Homo sapiens: one gene and its partners. Each later gene encodes a partner of the first gene's protein in a complex. Each region holds a gene or a part of one and is shown in the gene's direction. Other genes may lie near its edges. The genes, in order: ARID1B, PHF10, SMARCA4 and SMARCC2.

Region 1 (7,034 bases):
GGTCCTTCTGCCTCCTGCTGTGGTCCTAGTGCAGCTCCCAGCCCGGGAGCCGTCTGCCTGTGTGGGAGTTGAACGCTGGCTGTCCCGGTGGCACAGCCTAAGGAGAGGAGGCTTTTTTTTTTCCACAGGAAGTTTCAAACACGTGAAAACAAACTTTGGATGCTCTCTCCTCAGTGTGTGACATGGTGTATATAATACTGAAATATTGAACATAAATTGTTAGTTCTCTGTTGTTATAGGAGCTTCCCATATTCATTTTGAAATGAACATTCTAGCAGGTAATAACTATTTTGCATAATTTCAGTGTGTGATTATACCTGTAAGAGCACATCAGGATGATTTGTCTTTCTGTGAATTCCAGAATTACAAACGCCATATGGACGGCATGTACGGGCCCCCAGCCAAGCGCCACGAGGGCGACATGTACAACATGCAGTACAGCAGCCAGCAGCAGGAGATGTACAACCAGTATGGAGGCTCCTACTCGGGCCCGGACCGCAGGCCCATCCAGGGCCAGTACCCGTATCCCTACAGCAGGGAGAGGATGCAGGGCCCGGGGCAGATCCAGACACACGGAATCCCGCCTCAGATGATGGGCGGCCCGCTGCAGTCGTCCTCCAGTGAGGGGCCTCAGCAGAATATGTGGGCAGCACGCAATGATATGCCTTATCCCTACCAGAACAGGCAGGGCCCTGGCGGCCCTACACAGGCGCCCCCTTACCCAGGCATGAACCGCACAGACGATATGATGGTACCCGATCAGAGGATAAATCATGAGAGCCAGTGGCCTTCTCACGTCAGCCAGCGTCAGCCTTATATGTCGTCCTCAGCCTCCATGCAGCCCATCACACGCCCACCACAGCCGTCCTACCAGACGCCACCGTCACTGCCAAATCACATCTCCAGGGCGCCCAGCCCAGCGTCCTTCCAGCGCTCCCTGGAGAACCGCATGTCTCCAAGCAAGTCTCCTTTTCTGCCGTCTATGAAGATGCAGAAGGTCATGCCCACGGTCCCCACATCCCAGGTCACCGGGCCACCACCCCAACCACCCCCAATCAGAAGGGAGATCACCTTTCCTCCTGGCTCAGTAGAAGCATCACAACCAGTCTTGAAACAAAGGCGAAAGATTACCTCCAAAGATATCGGTAAGAATTCCAAAGCTTTCATTCTGAAATGAATTCCAGTTGCAGTGTAGAATTTTAATTTTAGTAAAGATGCTGTTCCTGCTCATCTTAAAGGGATGAAAAAATTATGACTAGAAGTTATCAAGATGCGTTTTTATATAGGAGTAATATAGTTGGAGGCTGCTAATCTGAATTAAGAAATAGTGCCAGAAAGATTGGCCGGGCGCGGTGGCTCATGCCTGTAATACCAGCACTTTGGGAGGCCCAGGCGGGTGGATCACGAGGTCACGAGATCGAGACCATCCTGGATAACACGGTGAAATAAAATGGTAGTTTTACGTGTGAATGTTATTTGTGTGAAAGATTAGAGCTTCAAGTAAGAGATCAGGGAATCCTGAGTGGTTATATGCTGTATTTTGGGCTTAAAGATTTGAACTTAACCAAGCCACTTAATCACTACAATACGTGCCTAACAGACCCCCCCATGAGGCTAATGAAATGCTAAAGGTGACCTGAGAAAATCTGAAGGCAAGCCACTCTGTAATTTGGTGACAACATACAGTGAATTTCCGTGGGAAAAAGTTAAAGCTTGTATGTAATATGTAGATTGATAGATGGTATGACATAAAGAATATGCTATGCTGTGATACATAGAACTGATATCATCCAATGCACTGGTAGACTTGGGCCAAGAACCATGTCAATCGAATGCTGATGTTGCTTGTTTATCCTCTGTGGGATGTTCTGAATACTAATCAGAGGTCTGGACTATCTGGAAGTACACACAGGGTTTCTGCATTATTTTTGAAGTACTTTTAACACAGGAAGGAAGATAATAGATCTGAGTTATATTAGGAAAAATTACTCAAAAAATATCAAGAACAAATTGACTTAAAATCTTTTTCAGTGATTAGAAAATTAAAGATATTAATAATTTGAAAGACATCAATCACTGGACATTAAGGAGATGTAGATTGAGAGACCAGGGCAGGAGAATCACTTGAACTCAGGAATTCGAGACCACCCTTGGACAACCTAGCAAAACCTCGTCTCTACTAAAAAGAAAAAAAATTAGCCAAAAGTGAGATTCATTTCTGTAGTCCCAGCTATTCAGGAGGCTGAGGTAGGAGGATCACTTGAGCCCAGGAGATCAAGGCTTCAGCAGTGACTGTGCCACTGTATACACACACACACACACACATATTCCTTTATATATATCTATCCATTTATATATAATGCATGTGTATCTATATCCCTTTATATATATATATAGATAGATATAAATATAGATATATAGATATATATAGAATATGTGTGTGTGTGTATTTATATGGGGTTGCAGAGGGAGAGAAGGAGACACAGACACTGAGCACCATTTTATATATAGAAATATATACACACACACACACGTGTATTGTGTGTTTATGTGTGTATATGTATGTTTAAATAAATACATCTAAATTTTCTAAAAATCTCCCAGTGCGGGTTATATAGCATTTGTCTTCAACCTAGGGAAATTTACATGTTTATTTTTAAAAGTAATTTTGATTTTTTTATTGTAAAAACAGTATGTAGCTATCTTAGAAAATTTTAAAACAGATAAAATAAAAGTGGAAAAGCCACGGTGTCTCCCCCTCATGCAATGATTCTTGGTGCCTGGAGAATGCCCCCAGCCTCCAGGCAGCTCCAGGGATCTGGCCGAGCTGGGTCTCATGGCAAATCTTCCAAACTTTCTACCTGATCATTTTGTTTCCTTCAGTAGCAGGAATAGGGAAAACAACAAATTACTTCCCATTCTGTGGCTCCAGCCATACTCCTGAGAAATCTGAGCCATCAAAGTGCTAATATTTATCACAGCATGTTCTGAGGGCAGGAGCACAGGACTAGAGGAAAGCAGCCTGGGAAGCCAAGGCCGTGTGTCTGAGGAGGCTGTCTTGGAGTTAAATTTTGCTTCCATGTTCTGCATACTTGGCGGCCTTCCAGGACGCCACCTTGAGACACTCGTGAGTGGTGAAGCCAAAAGAAGACAAATACCACTTTTGGGTTTGACTCATTTATTAAAAGCTCTGATACCACATTGCAGACTCTGTAGGGTGGCTGAAAGAAATAACCCGGCCATGAGAAAGGACCATCTGTGCTCAACCACTCCACCTCCAGAAGCACTTTCGGCCCCTGCGTGACCAACAAAGCGAGATCTGAAACCACAAAAGTTTCTCGTTACAGCTATGGCCTCCATTTAAAATCGGAAATGATCACGCTTAACTGTCCTTGAGAGCATTTGTTTAAAGTCAATATTTAACTTAACACTCCACTTATTTTTTCTTACTCTTTCGTTAACTTTCGTTCTTTCATGCATAGAGTCAACATTCATGATATCCTTGTTCTTCCCCATCTTCAGTTACTCCTGAGGCGTGGCGTGTGATGATGTCCCTTAAATCAGGTCTTTTGGCTGAGAGTACGTGGGCTTTGGACACTATTAATATTCTTCTGTATGATGACAGCACTGTTGCTACTTTCAATCTCTCCCAGGTAAGCCAGCATAGTCCAACTAACAACCAAATTAGGATAGGAGAGCATCAGGCCATGCACATTTGTGCTTGAACTAATGCCTGAGTTGATGAGCACTGACCGTCCAACACTGTTAATCACTGCAGTTGTTATCAACCAGCCTTAATCAATGTAGAGTTATCTGGGATAATATTCACTGTAGTCTTTAGTGTGTGTACACACACATACCTCTATTTCTTATGAGAGAACAGTGACTGTGTGTGTATGTGTATATGGGATAGATGACAGTAGTAACATTAAATTGTTCAGAATGAATATTAGCTGGCCAATGGGAAGAAATCAAAATGTAACATTAAGTTGTGACTGGAGTCAGCATTGGAAACACAGTTGGTTGCAATGGGACATAACCCTGCTTTCCAGGAGGACTTGACATCTTCTTTTCATTAAAAAGATATTCAAGATTTAGAAATTTTATATTCTATACATTTATAGAATGTATAAATATATATAGAAGGAGAGAGAGCAGTTTAATGAACCCCCATGTACCTGTCAGTCAGCTAAAATAGTTATGAACTCATGGCTAAACTTACTTCTTAGTCTATGCTCTCTCATTTCTGCCTCTCTCCAGGTTATTTTGAAGCAGTCATGTAAAAGCCTACTACTTTTAATGAGCTTAAACCCCTCCTTTGTTCAGAGGTAGGCTTCAGGTAGCTTCCAGCATAATAGCTAGAAGAGAGGAGCACTGAAGTTTGGGGAAAATGCCCGAGTCCACTGGGCTATAGACTTTTAAAGAAATATTTAGAAATAAAAAATGGAAAAAGGTCATTTTCCCTATAGTATACAAACAACTCTCTACTTTGAGTGCAAAAACTAAAACACTTAATTTCCTTGCTTCTAAGGAAATAAGACCAGAATCTTCTACTTCTTTCTTCTCTCATTTAAGCCCTCATTATCAGCCTAGAAAGGCAATTTTTCAATTGCTAGAAAGTTTATTAATAAGGTCATAAACATTGTACGAGTTCTGTGTTAACAGAAAATAAGTATTTAAAAACTGTATACTGCATTTGCTAGAGTAATGCGCTTTCATCCTTATGTTAGGTGAACTGTTGTTGATCACATATTTGCATAACCAGAATTGCTTTATTAACTTTCCCTTTTCCCCTGGAAAAAAAAGGGAAAATGCCCTTGGAACATTGTGCCTTCAGCACACTAAAAGCAGTTCTTTCTAGTTGGTGCTGGGGGCTTCCCCTGACTTCTTAAAAATTGTTCCAACTCTACTTTCAAGAAACTGACAGTAGGATATGAAGGTATAGCTGATTTCCAGAACATCTACCGGGAAAGAATCCTTGTTAGAATCCTTGTTACTTACTCTTTAGAGTTCCTAAACATGGTGGGGGGTGTTGGGAGAGAGGGCAGTTGCTAATCGTGAAGTGTATTGGTTTTTTCTTGGTACAGTTGCTTAAAGGAAACCAAACTTGTTCTTGTAGTCAGTGGTTCTCTCATAGTGGTTTTTGCCTTTCAGCTAGAGTCATAAATAACTGAAATGTAAAATTGCATTTTATGAAACATTTTAATTTATTTATCATAGGCTAAATTGATTTGTTTTTAATTTTCAGTGTTCATGAGCTACCACATTGCTGAAATTATCTTCTCCAAAAGATATATAGAGAACATAAATTAGGGTGACCTATGGTACCTGAGACAAAAATAACCATAAAATCCTAAGAATAACAACCATAAAAATCCCGGCAAGCAAGTCTCAGATAAATAATAGAAGAGAACAGAGTCACTTTGGGCAAAAGAGTCTATAAAATCCATGTTCCCACTCTTCTAATAATGAGTACATTGTCTCTAAATCAGGAACAGAAAGGTAAAGAACAGCAAGGCACTCCCTCAGTGATAAGATTAGAGATATGAGAATAAAAAGTAAGTTTTCGTGTAGATAGTCTAAGCAAGGAAGCAGCAAATAAGGAACATGCTAAACATCGGTTTAGTTTATACTGTAAAATTCAGGAAGTTCGCTGGACCTGAAGGGTAGTTTATCTTTCATGGTCCAGCCAAAAAGGGAGACAAACGTGTGACAATGATGGAAAGGTATTGACGGGTCTCAGGATCTTTACCCTCCTCGGTCATATCTGATGTCATGACATTGTACCTGTTCTTTCTTTCTTCTCCTCCTCCTCCTCTCCAGTTGTCTGGATTTCTCGAACTTTTAGTCGAGTACTTTAGAAAATGCCTGATTGACATTTTTGGAATTCTTATGGAATATGAAGTGGGAGACCCCAGCCAAAAAGCACTTGATCACAACGCAGCAAGGAAGGATGACAGCCAGTCCTTGGCAGACGATTCTGGGAAAGAGGAGGAAGATGCTGAATGTATTGATGACGACGAGGAAGACGAGGAGGATGAGGAGGAAGACAGCGAGAAGACAGAAAGCGATGAAAAGAGCAGCATCGCTCTGACTGCCCCGGACGCCGCTGCAGACCCAAAGGAGAAGCCCAAGCAAGCCAGTAAGTTCGACAAGCTGCCAATAAAGATAGTCAAAAAGAACAACCTGTTTGTTGTTGACCGATCTGACAAGTTGGGGCGTGTGCAGGAGTTCAATAGTGGCCTTCTGCACTGGCAGCTCGGCGGGGGTGACACCACCGAGCACATTCAGACTCACTTTGAGAGCAAGATGGAAATTCCTCCTCGCAGGCGCCCACCTCCCCCCTTAAGCTCCGCAGGTAGAAAGAAAGAGCAAGAAGGCAAAGGCGACTCTGAAGAGCAGCAAGAGAAAAGCATCATAGCAACCATCGATGACGTCCTCTCTGCTCGGCCAGGGGCATTGCCTGAAGACGCAAACCCTGGGCCCCAGACCGAAAGCAGTAAGTTTCCCTTTGGTATCCAGCAAGCCAAAAGTCACCGGAACATCAAGCTGCTGGAGGACGAGCCCAGGAGCCGAGACGAGACTCCTCTGTGTACCATCGCGCACTGGCAGGACTCGCTGGCTAAGCGATGCATCTGTGTGTCCAATATTGTCCGTAGCTTGTCATTCGTGCCTGGCAATGATGCCGAAATGTCCAAACATCCAGGCCTGGTGCTGATCCTGGGGAAGCTGATTCTTCTTCACCACGAGCATCCAGAGAGAAAGCGAGCACCGCAGACCTATGAGAAAGAGGAGGATGAGGACAAGGGGGTGGCCTGCAGCAAAGATGAGTGGTGGTGGGACTGCCTCGAGGTCTTGAGGGATAACACGTTGGTCACGTTGGCCAACATTTCCGGGCAGCTAGACTTGTCTGCTTACACGGAAAGCATCTGCTTGCCAATTTTGGATGGCTTGCTGCACTGGATGGTGTGCCCGTCTGCAGAGGCACAAGATCCCTTTCCAACTGTGGGACCCAACTCGGTCCTGTCGCCTCA
Region 2 (7,034 bases), about 13 Mb from region 1:
TGTTAGAGACAGATGCTGGGGGTTCTGTAGCACCTCACTGCTCAGGGTATGTTCCGTGGTCCAAAGCACTGTTATTGCTCAGAAGCTTGTTGGAAATGCAGAATCTCAGGCCCAACTCTAGACCTATGACTCAGAGTCTGCATTTTAACAGATGTCTGTGTGATTCATGTGCAGGTTAGAGTTTGAGAAACACTGACTTTTACTGCAGAGAAGATGAGAGAAGGAGCGGAGAGGGGCAGGCATGGGCAACTGGGTGCCCCAGCCACATTGCTGACCTGGCCTGGCTGCTGCTCCAATATGGACCCTAAATGTTACTTATCTCCTATTCCCAAATTAAATGTAACTGAAAAAAACAGGGCTAACAGATTCTTTTTTTTTTTTTTGAGACAGTCTTGCTCTGTACCCAGGATGGAGTGTGGTAGTGTGATTTCGGCTCACTGCAACCTCTGCCTCCTGTGTTCAAGTGATTCTCCTGCCTCAGCCTCCCAAATAGCGGGACTGCAGGCACATGCCACCACGCCCAGCTAATTATTTGTATTTTTGGTAGAGGTGGGTTTTACCATGTTGGCCAGGATGCTCTTGATCTCTTGACCTAGTGATCCGCCCACCTTGGCCTCCCAAAGTACTCGGATTAAAGGTGTGAGCCACTGTGCCCAGCCCATTTTGTTTTAAAGTCTCAGCTTTTACTTCAACCTTAAGCCTTACTCTGGAACCGTATGTTTTTCATAATATACTATTTTTTAGAGAATAGAATTTAAAATATAGTATCATAACTCACACCATTTGAAAGTCAAATCTTGGGCAGAAATTTTTTAAATAAAAAAAGATTTTTTAAATTCAAATTTAAATCATGAGCAGCAATTTTTTAAAAGTTTTTCTTCAAATTTTTTTTTTTTTTTTTTGAGATGGAGTCTCACGCTGTCGCCCAGGCTGGAGTGCAGTGGCGCGATCTCGGCTCACTGCAACCTCTGCCTCCTGGTTCAAGTGATTCTCCTGCTTCAGCTTCCCGAGTAGCTGGGATTACAGGTGCCCGCCACCTTGCCCAGCTAATTTTCTGTATATTTAGTAGAGACGGGGTTTCACCATGTTGGCCAGGCTGGTCTCGAACTCCTGACCTCAGGTGATCTGCCCACCTTGGCCTCCCGAAATGCTGGGATTATAGGCGTGAGCCACTGCACCCGGCCTTTAATTTTTAAAAATTTTATTTTGGCATCAGCAAATTATTAAAAGTCATATGCAAGTATATTAACCCCTTTGCTTTTTGGTGTGTTGTCTTAGTTGGAGAAGTCTTCATCTAGGGTTGCCTCCTGAATGGGGGCTACTGAGGGTGAGAATGGAGGTGGCACGAAGCAGTGCTGTCTGACCTAGGGGAAGAGATTGCCAATATAGTTTCAGACAAAATAGATGATTAAATTTGTTAGAATACATGCTTCCCAAATTTGTTTACAATAATTGGTTACTAAAAATTTTGCTTTCTATGTTATTATTTTAAGTAATATCATGTACCATGCACTGGTGTGATATGTATGCATTAAATAAGTTAATGCATATATATCAACTGTATGCGGTAGATGCTATTATTAGGTCTGTTTTACAAATGGAGTGACAGCACAGAGAAGTAGCAAAGACCTGGGACAGTGGTCGAGGTGGATGTGAGCTGGCAGCCAGACTTGGGGCTGCTGACATTTTATTTACTTTTTTCTTTTTTTGGGTTGAGGGCAAAGAGGGGAGGCACATTATCTCTTAGTAAGAATCAAATGCATATTTTACATAAGTCTAGTGAAAAGATGTTCAGGCTTTTTATTAACCCTACTTGATGACAAAAATGAAAAATTAGTACTCTAGTTTTCAAAAGTCTTCGGGGTTACTCAAGAAGTTTAAGGCTATCTTCATAGGTCAAAGATGAGTCTGTTTATATTTAATAATAAAGGGAAACCAAAAATAAACTCTCTGAACTTCAGGTACTCACCAGATGAGCTGCGGTATCTGCCATTAAACACAGCCCTGTATGAGCCCCCTCTGGATCCTGAGCTCCCTGCTCTAGACAGTGATGGTGATTCAGATGATGGCGAAGATGGTCGAGGTGATGAGAAACGGAAAAATAAAGGCACTTCGGTGAGAACATTTCTCTCTAGTAGGAAGCATTTCCTTTCTCTTTGAATTTTTGTTACATTGAATTTCTGTCATCACCCTCTCCTTGAAAAAGGATGGTTGCATGTAATTTCCAGAAAGTATTCATCAATAAAAGTTACTTATAGTATGTTTTGATAAAAACAAGCAGTGAATGGCCTTTGGTAAGCTTTATGCTTAAAATCGCCCCTTTGTAGTTACCATGAGCAGTTTAGGCAAGGGTATGGAAAATTAGCTTACAATCATTTATTCAACTTGCTGTCTCTTTAGCTTAAAATATTGAACAAAACAGAATTTGATCTCTTGACACAGAAATGTAGTTTTCTTAGTTGAGGGGAGTGCATTTGCTTAATCTTATGCTTCCTATAGGAAAATATTATGTTTAGTAATATGTTGTACAATTTGTTGGGTTTTCCTGTATGACTTTTTTTTTTGTAGCAAAATGCACCTGCAAGACAGTGGGCAGTTGGTGTATTCTGTGCACCTGAAGGAGAATAAAATCCCAATGATGGTTTGGGGCTTTGATCCCAGTGATGACATAGGGCTTTGAATTTCTTTAGCATTGTGTTTTAAGTAACTGGCTATTTCAAACTTTTCATTGAAGCCAATGTAAATGTGAGATTGTGCTACCATTGAATGGACATTATTTCCTTGTCACCAACAGCTTCTAAAACATCTTTAATAATACATATTATGCAAAATAAGATACTGTTCAAGTATTAAAGTGGTGACACAACTTTTCTCCTGTCATGTTGCTAAAAGGGGAGCTATGGCATGCAAAGGGTGATGAAGCTGACTTCCTTTCATACTGCTAGGAAAAGTGTAAACTAATCCAACATTATGGGAAAGCATTTTGACAGTCTTACCAATTTAAGTTCCATAGTATTTGACCTAGCAAATCCACTAGTAGAATTTATCCTAAGGATTTAATCAGATGCTGAAAAATTTTAATTAGAAAAAAAGGTCCATTTGAGTGTTGACAGTATTTTTTATGCTGGAAGTTACAAATAAATTTTAATGCCCACAGTGGGTAATATTATATTACATTTATAGGATAGAAATGCAGTTCAAAGAATATTTAATGATTGTGAGAAAATGCACATAATGCTTTTAAAAAATACCAAAATACACATATGCATACACACACAGTGTAATCCAGTTTTGTATTTTAAAAAATGAGGGCACAATGAGGTAGGGGGTAATGTGTGAGTCTCGGTATCTTTATGTATATAAGTGGACACCCAGAAAAAAGATAAAGTAGATACATTCATGTTTCTAGTCAGTGTGTGTTTATCAGGGAGGCTCTAGATAACCTAATTTTTTAATTTATAATTTTTGTAATTTATATGAAAGTTCTAATTAGAACATTTTAAATTATAAAATGAAGAATTAAATGATCAGATACTGAGGTCTTAAACCTTGAATATATAAAATATTTCAGATCCTGTTGTAGATAGTTGAGGGATTGGCTCTGCATAGTTTAACATTGTGAAAACACAAATGTGTACTTGAAGGACTTTTTTTTTTTTTTCCTAACTGCAGCGCTTCATTTTTCCTGAAGGACCTTCTTAATGACTTTTAGTACTCAGTGAAAATACCCACACTTATTTGTAACAATATATTTTTGTATGAAACAAATATGTTCCCTTGTGACGGAAAATGATGTTGAAGCTGTGTGCCGTAATAGTAGCTGAAGCGGATAATTGTGTTTTTGTGACTTATGTCAGAAAACAAAGTTGATGAAGGCACTGATATGGAATCAGTTTTATATAATATACTTAGAAGAAGGAGGAATGATTTTTAACATAACTTACTTTAGTCTCCACTGGAAAAAGCTTTCTTACATTTAGAATGATCTTTTTATTTTTAAAATGATAAAGCTTTAAAACTTTCTTTGAATATTTTCCATAGTTTTCAAAATCCAGACTCAAATTTGTCTTAATTCCAAAGAATCTTTGTTTTTGCCTTTTAAACTCCAGGACAGCTCCTCTGGCAATGTATCTGAAGGGGAAAGCCCTCCTGACAGCCAGGAGGACTCTTTCCAGGGAAGACAGAAATCAAAAGACAAAGCTGCCACTCCAAGAAAAGATGGTCCCAAACGTTCTGTACTGTCCAAGTCAGTTCCTGGGTACAAGGTAGAAGAAAAAAGCCCCTGACTCAGCTTCTTTACTGACCAGCCTCTCCCTGAAATATTTTAACTTGACTTTCACGATTGTGGAGCTTCTGCCTGCTGTACCTCACTAGCTGTTCTTCTATGGTGTGCCCTTTGTCCGCTGCTTTCTTTTTTGCTTTATTTCCTTGGTGGCTTTTCTGTCACTTTTGGCTATGGTTTACCTTCTGTTTTCTGTATATGTACAATTTATAAGTCTTTTTTTTTCTTTGAAAGAATAACCAGGCAAGTATGGGTTTTTAAAACATTATTTCATAGGCAGAAGTTTATATTTTCTTTCCTTGGAGTAAAGATCATAATTATTTGGCATTTTAAATGCCCCAGCATTTAGTGTAGCTAAAGCTGCTGAGCTATAAAGTATGAGTGGATATACTGTTAGACTAAGTTGCATTTTTTTTAGTGCCTTTCATTAAGAAAGATCTGGGTTTAATCTAAGGATTATTTGATCCATATGCTAAATTTAGCTAACTCTGGGATAGAAAATAATAAAACCTGTTACTTACATTGTAGTGATTTTTAGCATAACCTTGGTAAAGAGCCTATATGATTCTATGGCAAGAATTAAAACATACTTGTTAACTTGTTGATCTGATTATCCTCAGAGTAAAGGAGTAGGTTGTCAGCAACTATTATTATATTTTGAACTTTTCCTCCCTCTGTCTGCCCCTCCCTTTTCTTCTGAAGAAAAGGTGAGGTGAGAGATGAGTAGCCTTATTTGCATATAGGGATTTAAGAATATCATAAAAGGAAGAATTAGCTGTACAGTTTCATATTTGGGATGGTGGTAGTAAAATAGACTACCTTTTGATTCTTTTGGTCTGAAATGTATTAGAACATGCTTTTATTGCACTTATGAAGGTGTATTGAAGGAAAATTTTAGAGTAAGCTGATGAGAAAGTTTTGCCAAGTGAAATTGTTAAACACCTTGTATGTCAGAACTGTGATTGTGGTAAATAATTCACAAGAACAGGCTGAAGTAAGTCACCTTTCCCTCAAACTAACTAGAACACGTTCTAACATGTTCATTTACCTTTCTTCAAGTAAAAAAAGCGACATTAAGTTAGTGTATTTCATATTTTATTAGGAAATGCTTTTATGTAATTAACTTAAAAATTCTTTTTTTTTTTTGTAGCCTATAGCAAGCAAATTTTAAGCTTAATTCAGCAAGGGTTGGCTTCCAAGGGTGGCTGCAATAGGCTGCAGCTATGTGATTTTTGTACTTGTTTTTACATATATAGCTTATGTAATTTCTTTATATAAATTAATGCTTAATAACTGAAAGCAAGTGAGCTCCAAAGATGAAATTTCAGAAGCAGTATACATGAATGAGTGTGTTCTACTGGTCTGCTAAGAGCTTTAAATGGAAGTGGCCGCTCAAAGCACAGTGTCCTGTTAACTCTTGAGTGCTAAGTAGATCTTTGCAACAGTAAGCTTGATTGATCATGGGTTAAAAAGAGAGAATATTGAAATAGATGTTTTAATACAGGCTGGAAATCAGCTATTCAACACTATCATTGATTTAGTATACAAGAAATCATATGGATTAACTGAACTTAATAGTACTCAAGTAGGATATGCAAAATTTATATTTTACATAATCTGTGAACATTTTTAGTACCTAAAAATGTTTCAGGTATTTCAAAGATGGGAACAACCAGTATCTAGTCATCATACATTAATGTGAACATGCTTATTAAAAGTTAACCTCTTTATAAAAAGTATTAATAAACCAAGATGTGCCTAAATATTAGGGTACTTCAAGCTAAAGGTCATAGTTTATATATAAAAAGTACGAGATTCAAGGAAGTAATGTATCTGATGCTTTGCTTAATAAGATTCACTAGTGCTTGCCCTTAATTCATAGAACAGTATTGTTTAGGTTACATTAACCTGAAATTTAAAGCATAATTATTAGGATTCCGGCCTATAAATACAATAATTAAAATCTATACTATATTATTGCTACCATGAAAGTCTTATCTTTGGCTGTTTTTCAAGTAGAAAAGTAAGTGTACTGTGAGCCTTTTATTTGAGATGCTGAGAGCTATTAGGATGAGTATTTCAGTTTTCTTGTCAATAGTGATACTCTGATGATGTTGCAGTTATTTGAAGTAGAACTGATTGTCTAAACCAGACACACATAGGAGTGTGCTCCATTGGTCTTGTGGAGAGTGCTGCACATTAACCCCTCCCTCAACTGTGCAATCCACTTGAGACTGGCTTCTCTAAGCCACAGTTGTTATCTGCTGTGTAAAGTCCTGGATGCCAGCACTGTGGCTTCTTAGAGAGGGCAGATGCTTTGTATATCGAGCTGCAGCATTCATCGTAGAAAATGCTACAAAGCTGTCTCTCTTCCCCTTCTCTCATGTTTCCCTCTTTTCATCAAGATGAAGGCTGTTGGGTAAGAAAAACTAAGTGATTTAACAAATCATTATGATTTAAACTTAGAAATAAACCTAGAATTTTTTGGTGTCCCTTTTATCATAGGTGTTTAATGTATATTTTAATGATTGTAGAACTTGAATTGCTCTAGAATGTGAATGACTACCCTTGTGTTTTACTCCTTTTGGCTTTTGTTTTGTAAAGAATCTCCTGTGAGGAGTTCTGTTTTTAGAATTTAATATTGTTTGGTTACTTCCCTGACTTTAGTGAAAGATATTAGAGTATTTACTATGCCAGTATCTAACTTAAACTATTAGTATTAAATAAGTATATCTTTTACATTTAGTACAGG
Region 3 (7,727 bases), on another chromosome or scaffold:
CCATTCTCCTCTGGGATGATTCCCCTCCCCCACTTCCCGTTCCCTCCTCTCCCCTCCCCTCCCCTGCCCTGCCCTCTCCTCCCCTTCTTTTTTTTTTTTTTTTGAGATGGAGTCTCTGTCGCCCAGGCTAGAGTGCAGTGGTGTGATCTTGGCTCACTGCAACCTTCGCCTCCTGGGTTCAAGCGATTCTCCTACCTCAGCCTCCCGAGTAGCTGGGACTACAGGTGCTTGACACCACACCTGGCTAATTTTTGTATTTTAATAGAGACGGGGTCTCTCTTTTTTTTTTTTTTTTAGAGACAGACTCTCGCTCTGTCGCCCAGGCTGGAGTGCAGTGGCGGGATCTCAGCTCACTGCAAGCTGTGCCTCCCGGGTTCACGCCATTCTCCTGCCTCAGCCTCCTGAGTAGCTGGGACTACAGGCGCCTGCCACTACGCCTGGCTAATTTTTTTGTATTTTTAGTAGAGACGGGGTTTCACTGTGTTAGCCAGGATGGTCTCGATCTCCTGACCTCGTGATCTGCCCGCCTCGGCCTCCCAAAGTGCTGGGATTACAGGTGTGAGCCACTGCGCCCAGCTGAGACGGGGTTTCACCATATTGACCAGGTCTCGAACTCCATATTGACCTTGCGATCCCAGAGAAAGTGCTGGGATTACAGGCGTGAGCCACCGTGCCTGGTTGAGACAGGGTTTCACCATATTGACCTGGTCTCGAGCTCCTGACCTTGTGATTTGCCTGCCTCGGCCTCCTAAAGTGCTGGAATTACAGGCGTGAGCCACTGCGCCCAGCCTGTAGATGTTTTTTTTTTAAAGTCTGGAAGCCAAGGGTGTCAATGCAGACATGGGGCCAAGGTCCCAGGGGCAGTTCATTATTAAGAACTGTGCTCTTAATTGAGACACCTGGCAAATTTTGTATTGCTTTGTAGAGATGGGGTTTCACAATGTTACCCAAGCTGGTCTTGAACGCCTGTCCTCAAGTGATCTGCCAGCCTGGGCCTCCCAAAGTACTGCCATTATAGGCATGCATGAGCTACCACAACCGGCCTGTTTTTCTTTTTTGAGACGGAGTTTCGCTCTTGTTGCCCAGGCTGGAGTGCAACGGCATGATCTCAGCTCACCGCAACCTCTGCCCGCTGGGTTCAAGCGATTCTCTTGCCTCAGCCTCCCAAGTAGCTGGGATTACAGGCATGCACCACCACACCCGGCTAATTTTGTATTTTTTTAGTAGAGACAGGGTTTCTCCACGTCGGTCAGGCTAGTCCTGAACTCCTGACCTCAGGTGATCCGCCTGCCTCGGCCTCCCAAGTGCTGGGATTACAGGCGTGAGGCACCGCGCCTGGCCCGGCCTGTTTTTCTTTACACTATTGCATATTAGTGTGATTAGCATAAAAGACAATTAGAGAACAGTCATACCATCCACTCCATGGGCAGCAACCCTGCCTCCTCCATGCATTGCTGCAGGGTATTCCTAGCTCAATGCTTAGCATTTGGAGAGAGCATAAGAAATACTATTTGGCCGGGCGCCTTGGCTCACGCCTGTAATCCCAGCACTTTGGGAGGCTGAGGTGGGAGGATCACCTGAGCCCAGGAGTTTGAAACCAGCCTGGACGACATAGTGTGACTGTCTCTACAAAAAATTTTAAGAAAATTAGCTGAGTGTGGTGTCCCACCCTTGTAGTCCAAGCTACTCGGGAGGCTGAGGCAGGAGGATCGCTTGAGCCCAGGAGGTCGAGGCTACAGTGAGTACTGATCGTGCCACCGCAGTCCAGGCTGGATGACCCAGCAAGCCTGTGTCTCAAAAACAAAAACAAAAAAACAAAAAAATAACTACTTGAATGAATGAGGAATCGAGTTCAGATCCCACTTCTACTTGCTCACTTACTGTGCACTATTCAATAACACTAGCTGAGGATCAGAGAGCTAGCAGGTGGGCTACCTGCTGTCATGATTCCTCATAACCAAACAGTGGAAGTGGGAGCCATTATTGTTTCTGGTGGGTTTTTTTTGTTTTGTCTTGTTTTGTTTTTGAGACGGAATCTCCCTCTGTCACCAGGCTGGAGTATAGTGGCACGCTCGACTCACTGCAACCTCCGCCTCCTGGGTTCATGCAATTCTGCCTCAGCCTCCTGAGTAGCTGGCACTACAGGCACGCGCCACCACAGCCAGCTAATTTTTGTATTTTTAGTAGAGATGGTGTTTCACCACATTGGCCAGGATGGTCTCAATCTCTTGACCTCATGATCCACCTGCCTTGGCCTCCCAAAGTGTTGGGATTACAGACGTGAGCCACTGGGCCCAGCATTTTTTTTTTTTTTTTTTTTTTTTGAGATGGAGTTTTACTCTCGTCACCCAGGCTGGAGCGCAATGACATGATCTTGGCTCACTGTAACCTCCACCTCCTGGGTTCAAGAAATTCTCCTGCCTCAGCCTGCCGAGTAGCTGTGATTACAGGCACCTGCCACTATGCCTGGCTAATTAATTTTTTTGTATTTTTAGTAGAAACGGGGTTTCACCATGTTGGCCAGGCTGGTCTCGAACTCCTTACCTCAGGTCATCTGCCCACCTTGGCTTCCGAAAGTGCTGGGATTACAGATGTCAGCCACCGCACCCAGCCTTATTGTTTGTTTCACAGGTGAAGAAAGTGAGGTGTAGATGCTCTGGTAAACCTGCCTGGTATTACCCATGCATCACCCAGGTAGTAGAAATGGAGTCGTGTTTTAAACCCAGGTCCTTCTGGGGCCTGGCTTGGTGGCTCATGCCTGTAATCCCAGTGCACTGGGAGGCTGAGCCAGGAGGACTGCTTGAGCCCAGTAGTTTGAGACCAGCTTGGGTAACACAGCAGACCTCAGCTCTACAGAACATAACAGACAAAAAAAAAAAAAAAAAAAAAAAGCTGGTGGTGGTGGCATGTACCTGTAGTCACAGCTATTTGGGAGGCTGAGGTGGATCCCTTGAGTCCAGGAGTTTGAGGCTGCACTGAGCTGTGGTTACACCATTGCACTCCAGCCTGGGTTACAGAGCAAGACCCTGTCTCTAATAAAACAAACAATTAAACAAAAACCCACCCAGGTGAGGTGGCTCACGCCTGTAATCCCAACACTTTGGGAGGCTGAGGTGGGCGGATCACTTGAGGTCAGGAGTTAAAAACCAGCCTGGCCAACATGGTGAAACTCTGTCTCAACTAAAAATACAAAAATTAGCCGGGCGTGGTGGCGGACGCCTGTAGTCCCAGTTACTCGGGAGGCTGAGGCAGGAGAATCGCTTGAATCTGGGAGGCAGAAGTTGCAGTGAGCTGAGATCGTGCCACCTCACTCCAGCCTGGGCAATGGAGTAAGACTCCGTCTCAAAACAAACAAACAAACAAACAAACAAACAAACAAACACACAAAAAAGAAAACACACAGAAGAGGCCAAGAGGCTCAGGGCCTTCACTCTCGGAGGAAGGTTTCTCTCTTTCACCACCAGCCTGTATGCATTCAAACGTGTTCTTTGCAACGACGACTTCCGTGGCTGCCCTATTTAAAATGTCCATGATCCTCCCAGTGTTCACCTCACACTGTACTATTTATTTTTTTTGAGACGGAATTTCACTCTTGTTGCCCAGGCTGGAGTGCAATAGTACGATCTCGGCTCACTACAATCTCCACCTCCTGGGCTCAAGCGATTCTCCTGCCTCAGCCTCCCGAGTAGCTGTGACTACAGGCGTGTGCCACCACGCCCGGCTAATTTTTTGTATTTTTAGTAAAGACGGGGTTTCACCGTGTTAGCCAGGATAGTCTCATCTCCTGACCTCATGATCCACCAGCCTAGGCCTCCCTAAGTGCTGGGATTACAGGCATGAGCTACCGCGCCCGGCTAATTTTTGTATTTTTAATAGAGACGGGTTTCACCATGGTGGTCAGGCTCGTTTCTAACTCCCGACCTCAGGTGATCCGGCCGCCTCGGCCTCCCAAAGTGCTGGATTACAGGCGTGAGCCACCAAGTCCGGCCTCTCATACTGCACTATTTTGCTTATTAATCTTGCTTCTTGTCCTCCTTCCCCACTAGACCGAGGGCTCCACGGCGGCTGGGACACAGTAGCAGATCAATAAATATTTGCTAAGCTAATTAATGGCACTTGGGAAGTTTTGCAGAGAAGGCGGCCACGGTCGGGCCCCGCCTTGCCTCCCCAAATAGGCCTCGCCGCCCCAGGTCAGGGATCAAAGCGGTTCCCAGGCGCGCCCTTGGCCCGCGGGAAACCACTGCCCGGTCTTGGTCCAGGCGGCCCGTCCTACGGTCCAGGGTTCCTATTTCCGAGCCTCAGGGACCTCCTTTCCCCACGGACCCCACGGCCACCGGGATCCCATTCTCCAGTTGCCCCATCGTCACCGCGGCCGCCGCCACCGCCGCCGCAGTGGCGTCCGCTCTGCGCATGCTCCGGGGCGTCAAGACGCGAGGCGTGCAGAAGGCGAAGCGTGCGCAGGCGCGGGGCCATCGCGGCCCGAGTGGGGCGGTGCATCGGACGCGCGTGCTTCCTCCGGGCCACGCCCACCCCCGTCCGCCCAGGGACGGGCGCGCACGCGCGCCGGGAGCGGAAGGGCGGGCTGGCGCGCGCACGAGGCCGGGCAGGCGGCGGAAGCTGGAGAGGCCGCCGCGGTGCTGAGGGGGAGGGGAGCCGGCGAGCGCGCGCGCAGCGGGGGCGCGGGTGGCGCGCGTGTGTGTGAAGGGGGGGCGGTGGCCGAGGCGGGCGGGCGCGCGCGCGAGGCTTCCCCTCGTTTGGCGGCGGCGGCGGCTTCTTTGTTTCGTGAAGAGAAGCGAGACGCCCATTCTGCCCCCGGCCCCGCGCGGAGGGGCGGGGGAGGCGCCGGGAAGTCGACGGCGCCGGCGGCTCCTGGTAAGGAACGCGGGCCGCGGGGGCAGCGCGGCGCGGGGCCGGGGAGGGCGGTTTGAATGGAGCCGGGGCGCCGAGGGGGGAGGGGGCTGCCGGCGCGCCCTGTGCGGGGCCGGGGTACGGCGGCGCCCGAGGGTCAAGAAGCCCAGCCGGCAGCCGCGCGCGTGGGGAAGGCCACAGTGTCGCGAGGCCGTGGCAGCGGCGGCCCCCGCGGAGCGGCGGGGTGGGTGGGGGGCCCGGGCCGCGTGGAGGCCGCGCGATCCTCTCCGCGCGCGCTCTCGCCGGGGTCGCCGGACAAAGCTCGCCCCCCTCGCCCGGCACCCCTACAGTCGCCCTCCCAATTACAGCGGCTGCAACAATAGGCAGGCGTTGGGGCTTTTCTGGCTGCGTGGTAACGGGTCCGACCCGAATGTTGCGTTTTTGGCGAAGCTGCGATCGGGGCTCAGCCAAACCTCCAGATATGTCCGGCGTCGGCCGGACACGGGCATTAGCGGTCCCCTTGGGCTAGCCGACCTCAAATTGTCTTAAAAACGTGTCATTCCAGATTTTCAAGGAAAGGTAAAGGACTCCCCCGATGCCTTGCAGTTAGTGACTTCAAAATGTTTGCCCGAATTGGGGTTGGGGATGGGGTCGGCGGCAAGTAGGGGAGCACGGAGGAAATCCTTTGCTGTGTAAAAGCATTGCTTTTCTTTTGCATCCTTTTTTCTCCTTCCCAATTGGTTTTTCAGATTAAGGCTTTTATTTTCAACGTGGACCTTTTGGGCGAGTGTTTTGTCCCGATCTTGAAGATACCAGTCTTGATTTTTTTTTTTTTTTTTTTTGGTCAGTGACTCCTTGGGGAAAGTAGCAAGGGAATAAGCGGAAAAGCCGCTTCGCAGGAATTTGAAGCAAGTTTTCAGTTTGGATTGATAGGCTGCATTCAAGCTTGATTCCTGGTGCTGTCAGTCACTTAGCACACTGTCACTTTAGGGAAGTGGCTTAACCTCTCTGAACCTCTTAGTTTTCCTCCTTTGTGAAAGCTCCTTTGTGAAAGGGGGTAATCTCCCAAATGGAATTGGTGAAAGCCTGTAAAATGGTTCCTCGCAAGCGGGAAGCACTATTGTAATTGTCTGGTCCAATCTCCCTCATTGTTCAGCAGATAACTTCTTGAGGCCCTACTAAGTGTTGGATGGTCGGGGGTTGGATCCTGGAGCCTCTGCAGTCTTGGAGGGGAGCGGGTGGTAAATGTGGGAACAAACTCTCTTGGCCTATCGTTTATTGCTCTGAACCTGCACTGTGAGAGGGACACAGCGGACAGGCAGGGGATCGGTGGTAGCCAGAGATCACGGGGGCTGCTTGGAAGAGGGGGCCTCAAAATCAGGGAGGGTGTGTAGGATTGTATTTTGTTTTTGAGGCAGAGTCTTGCCTGTCGCCCAGGCTGGAGTTCAGAGTCCCAATCTCCGCTCACTGTAACCTCCGCCTCCTGGGTTCAAGCGATTCTCCTGCCTCAGCCTCCTGAGTAGCTGGGACTACAGGCGCCCGCCACCACGCCTGGCTAATTTTTGTATTTTTAGTAGATATGGGGTTTTACCATGTTGGCCAGGCTGGTCTCAAACTCCTGACTTAAGGTGATCCACCCACCTCGGCCTCCCAAAGTGCTAGGACTACATGTGTGAGCCACTGCGCCAGGATTGTATTTTGACTTTCCCTGGCCACCTCGGACTAGCCATTGTTCCCCTCAGCTACATTCATACATCAACTTGGTCCTTTCCGGTGTAGCTGTCACCCCCAGCACCGTGAGAGCTGGGGTTGTGTCTGCCTGGCTGGCCCCACAGTACCCTGGGCCTGACACATAGTAGGTCTTTAGCGAACTTATGTGGATTGAATGAGGGGGTCCTGTGGAAGATCGCGTGACCATCTGTGTAAAAGGCTTGGTGCAGGGCCAGGTGCAGTGGCTCATACCTGAAATCCCAGCACTTGGGGAGGCTGAGGCGGGAAAATTGCTTGAACCCGGGAGTTTGAGACTAACCTGGGCAACATAGTGAGACCTCATCTCTACAAAAAATACAAAAATTAGCCGAGTGTGGTGGCATGCACCGGTGGTCCCAACTACTCAGGAGGCTGAGGTAGGAGGACTGCTTGAGCCAGAGAGGTGGAGGCTGCAGTGAGCCATTCTTGTGCCCCTGCATTCCAGCCTGTGCACCAGAGTAAGACTGTCTCAAAAAAAAAAAAAAAAAAAAAGAAAAAGAAAGCTTGGTGCAGGACTGGGGGTGGATTGTAAGGGATACAGGTTAGTTGTTTGAACAGTTTTTGCACTTTCCAAGCCATTGTTTCCTGAACCTCAGTTGTCCTCATCTCCCCTACAAAGTGTGGGGTGGTGGTTAGCGTGGGGTGGTGGTAAGGAGTACTCATTCTGGAATCAGACCTCCTGAATTCACACCCAGCTCTCTAAATCGTAGCTTAACCTCAAGCGAGGCGCTTAGCAGTAGGGCCCCCCACTTGTGAAACAGGTAGGACGAGGATGCCCGAAACTTCACAGGCTTCTTGTGAGGGTTGAATGAGGTCACATGGGAAGCCGCTAACACACTGCTGCACCTGATGCGTAGTGAACACTTGATTTTTTTTTTTTTTTTGAGACGGAGTCTCGCTCTGTCATCCGGGCTGGAGTGCAATGCCCCTGTAGTCCCAAGCTCCTTGAGAGGCTGGGGCAGGAGGTACAGGCTGCAGTGGACCATGATTGAGCCACTGCACTCCAGCCTGGGTGACGAAGCGAGACCCTGTCTAAAAAAAGGAATAAAAATTAATTCATGCATAGTTAGGAAAGTAATAAATGGTTTTGCATGGGCCACCTAAAATCATTTTGTGTCCAGCCCTTTAGG
Region 4 (3,659 bases), on another chromosome or scaffold:
CCCGCAGTCCATGGCTTGGCTGTGGCTCCAGCCTCTGTAGTCCCTGCTCCTGCTGGCAGTGGGGCCCCTCCAGGAAGTTTGGGCCCTTCTGAACAGATTGGGCAGGCAGGGTCAACTGCAGGGCCACAGCAGCAGCAACCAGCTGGAGCCCCCCAGCCTGGGGCAGTCCCACCAGGGGTTCCCCCCCCTGGACCCCATGGTAAGTGTTATGTTCCAGAACTTTTGTTGGCTAGAGGAATCCAGGTGAATGTCCCAGTTCTCCTCAAAGGGGATACAAGATGAGTGTGGAGATGAGGTTAGCCTCAATTTCTACAGATGGGCCCATCTCTCTTAGGCCCCTAAATCAGCAGGAGTCCTTCCCCAAACTCGAGAGCTTTGGAATTTTATTCACTTACTCTAGTGTCAGAAAAGGGGAAGATAGTGCCAAGGAATGGCTAGATTATCCTTGTTTGTAAAAGTGAGTTATTCTTTGGGAGGCCGAAATGGGTGGATCACGAGGTCAGGAGATTGAGACCATCCTGGCCAACATGTTGAAACCCCGTCTCTAGTAAAAATACAAAAATTAGCTGGGCGTGGTGGTGCGTACATGTAGTACCAGCTACTCGGGAGGCTGAGGCAGGAGATTGCTTAAACCCGGGAGGCGGAGGTTGCAGTGAGCCAAGATCGTGCCACTGCACTCCAGCCTGGTGACAGAGTGAGACTCCGTCTAAAAAAAAAATAGAAAAGGTGAGTTGTTAAGCAAAATTTTATACCTAATTTTCTCCATCTCTCATCTTTATTCTCAGGCCCCTCACCGTTCCCCAACCAACAAACTCCTCCCTCAATGATGCCAGGGGCAGTGCCAGGCAGCGGGCACCCAGGCGTGGCGGGTAATGCTCCTTTGGGTTTGCCTTTTGGCATGCCGCCTCCTCCTCCTCCTCCTGCTCCATCCATCATCCCATTTGGTAGTCTAGCTGACTCCATCAGTATTAACCTCCCCGCTCCTCCTAACCTGCATGGGCATCACCACCATCTCCCGTTCGCCCCGGGCACTCTCCCCCCACCTAACCTGCCTGTGTCCATGGCGAACCCTCTACATCCTAACCTGCCGGCGACCACCACCATGCCATCTTCCTTGCCTCTCGGGCCGGGGCTCGGATCCGCCGCAGCCCAAAGCCCTGCCATTGTGGCAGCTGTTCAGGGCAACCTCCTGCCCAGTGCCAGCCCACTGCCAGGTGAGAAGGGGCCAAGAGGGGAGAAGGGTGAGGGAGAGGGGTCCACCTGGAGGGAGGGTGAGCGGGCAGGTGGGGAAGAGGTCAGGTATTAGAGTTTCCACAATCCTTTTTGAACACTCTGGTAAAATTAGAATACAGGAGGAAGGGCCTCTCTGGCCGTCCTCCACCATTCCCCAGCCTGGCAGCTGCCACCTTTGGGATGATGTTGGGGCCTTTCACTGGTGGGTCATGGAGCAATCCTGTGGCAGAGAGCATCTCAGTTGTAAACTTGAAAAGCAGCTGTTTGCATGATGATTGAGTGGCATCCCTTTGCTTATTCCTATCACGTTCAAATGCCCCATATAGAGAGTCTTTCTATATGTTTTTCTGAGTATGAGGTAGAAAAGAGTGTTGGGAACAGAAGTTGAACATTATGGGTACCTCATTCATCCACCCAGCCACTGCATGCCATGCCCGGTTCTGTCTGTCTGTGGTGGTCTGGGTCTGGAGCCATCTCTCCGGCGTACTCTAACTGATTTATCTTCCTTTTCTCCACAGACCCAGGCACCCCCCTGCCTCCAGACCCCACAGCCCCGAGCCCAGGCACGGTCACCCCTGTGCCACCTCCACAGTGAGGAGCCAGCCAGACATCTCTCCCCCTCACCCCCTGTGGACATCACGGTTCCAGGAACAGCCCTTCCCCCACCACTGGGACCCTCCCCAGCCTGGAGAGTTCATCACTACGTAAGGAAAGCTCCTTCCGCCCCTCCAAAGCCCTCACCATGCCTAACAGAGGCATGCATTTTTATATCAGATTATTCAAGGACTTCTGTTTAAAAGATGTTTATAATGTCTGGGAGAGAGGATAGGATGGGAATGCTGCCCTAAAGGAAGGGCTGGTGAAAGGTGTTTATACAAGGTTCTATTAACCACTTCTAAGGGTACACCTCCCTCCAAACTACTGCATTTTCTATGGATTAAAAAAAAAAAAAAAAAGTAGATTTTAAAAAGCCACATTGGAGCTCCCTTCTACCCACTAAAAAATAACCAATTTTTACATTTTTTGAGGGGGAGTGAGTTTTAGGAAAGGGGAATTAAGATTCCAGGGAGAGCTCTGGGGATAGAACAGGGCGCAGATTCCATCTCTCCCCAAGCCCCTTTTTAGTGACTAAGTCAAGGCCCCAACTCCCCTCCCCCACCCTACGCTGAGCTTATTCGAGTTCATTCGTACTAATAATCCCTCCTGCGGCTTCCTCATTGTTGCTGTTTTAGGCCACCCCAGCTCAGCCAATGATTCCTTTCCCTCTGAATGTCAGTTTTGTTTTTAAAAGTCACTTGCTTAGTTGATGTCAGCGTATGTGTATTTGGTGGGGAAAACCTAATTTCGGGGATTTCTGTGGTAGGTAATAGGAGAAGAAAGGGCACTGGGGGCTGTTCTCCTTCCTTCCCTGGGCTGTATCCATGGACTCCTGGAAGGCACAGAGAAGGGAGCTATAAGAGGATGTGAAGTTTTAAAACCTGAAATTGTTTTTTAAAGCACTTAAGCACCTCCATATTATGACTTGGTGGGTCACCCCTTAGCTTCCTCCCTCTCCCACCAAGACTATGAGAACTTCAGCTGATAGCTGGGGGCTCCCCAGATGAGGATGCAGGGATTTGGGAGCAGTGGAAGAGGGTGCCCAACCTTGGGTTGGACCAACCCTTGGCTCGCAGCTCAACTCTGCTTCCCGCATTCCTGCTCCACGTGTCCCAGCTTCTCCCCTGTGACGGGAAGGCAGGTGTGACTCCAGGCTCTGCACTGGTTCTTCTTGGTTCCTCCCACCAGGCCCTTTGTTCCTCATGTCCCCATGTTTCTCTCCCTCTGCGTCTTAGCACCTTTCTTCTGTTCAAAGTTTTCTGTAAATTTTCTCTTTTTTTCTTTCTTTCTTTTTTTTTTTTTTATAAATTAATTTGCTTTCAGTTCCATCTTGTGGGTGCATTCTGTGTTCTTACCTGTGGCTGTCAGGCAGGGGGATTGTGATGGGAGCAGCTTTCCTGGAGTCCTTCACAGCGGCGTTTACCTGGGCCGAAAGACACTCTGCAAGCCACACGGCCTACAGACACTGCGCCTCCCCACAAAACACGAACGGCAGCACAACTGTCGAGACTATGTGCTGGTATAGGAGCAGAGGCTCTCACCTGCCCTAAAAGCTGTTTAAGACTTGGAAGGACATTCCCACAACATGGAATTTTGTATCTCTGTCCCTTCAGAAGTAGTGGTTTCACTCCTTCCCTTATTAGAGAGGAGGCAAGCCCCTTACCTACTTTTGTTATAATTGGCCCTTCACCCTGCTGAGGTGACGGACAGGCTTAGGCAGTGCTAATAATGGCCTGGCTTTAGCTCCAATAAACACTCCACAGGCTTCCCCACAAAAGGCCTTATTGGGAGCTTGGGAGGGCGGGGGCCAGATTTAAGGAGCTGGAAGG

Evidence for each region.
Region 2: ARID1B (region 1) and PHF10 share a complex: the UniProt entries of both Homo sapiens proteins name them as parts of the neural progenitors-specific chromatin remodeling complex.
Region 3: ARID1B (region 1) and SMARCA4 share a complex: the UniProt entries of both Homo sapiens proteins name them as parts of the neuron-specific chromatin remodeling complex.
Region 4: ARID1B (region 1) and SMARCC2 share a complex: the UniProt entries of both Homo sapiens proteins name them as parts of the neuron-specific chromatin remodeling complex.

What each region holds. Positions count from the first base shown.
Region 1 is NC_000006.12:157,200,344-157,207,377, forward strand, and holds part of ARID1B (AT-rich interactive domain-containing protein 1B), read left to right. Parts: intron 1-361; coding exon 362-1,145; intron 1,146-3,522; coding exon 3,523-3,653; intron 3,654-5,823; coding exon 5,824-7,034. UniProt on the Homo sapiens protein: Involved in transcriptional activation and repression of select genes by chromatin remodeling (alteration of DNA-nucleosome topology).
Region 2 is NC_000006.12:169,707,467-169,714,500, reverse strand, and holds part of PHF10 (PHD finger protein 10), read left to right. Parts: intron 1-1,961; coding exon 1,962-2,115; intron 2,116-4,109; coding exon 4,110-4,265; intron 4,266-7,034. UniProt on the Homo sapiens protein: Involved in transcription activity regulation by chromatin remodeling. Belongs to the neural progenitors-specific chromatin remodeling complex (npBAF complex) and is required for the proliferation of neural progenitors.
Region 3 is NC_000019.10:10,956,303-10,964,029, forward strand, and holds the start of SMARCA4 (SWI/SNF-related matrix-associated actin-dependent regulator of chromatin subfamily A member 4), read left to right. Parts: upstream 1-4,727; 5' UTR 4,728-4,872; intron 4,873-5,007; exon of another isoform or gene 5,008-5,427; intron 5,428-7,727. UniProt on the Homo sapiens protein: ATPase involved in transcriptional activation and repression of select genes by chromatin remodeling (alteration of DNA-nucleosome topology).
Region 4 is NC_000012.12:56,161,858-56,165,516, reverse strand, and holds the end of SMARCC2 (SWI/SNF complex subunit SMARCC2), read left to right. Parts: coding exon 1-199; intron 200-785; coding exon 786-1,214; intron 1,215-1,751; coding exon 1,752-1,828; 3' UTR 1,829-3,158; downstream 3,159-3,659. UniProt on the Homo sapiens protein: Involved in transcriptional activation and repression of select genes by chromatin remodeling (alteration of DNA-nucleosome topology).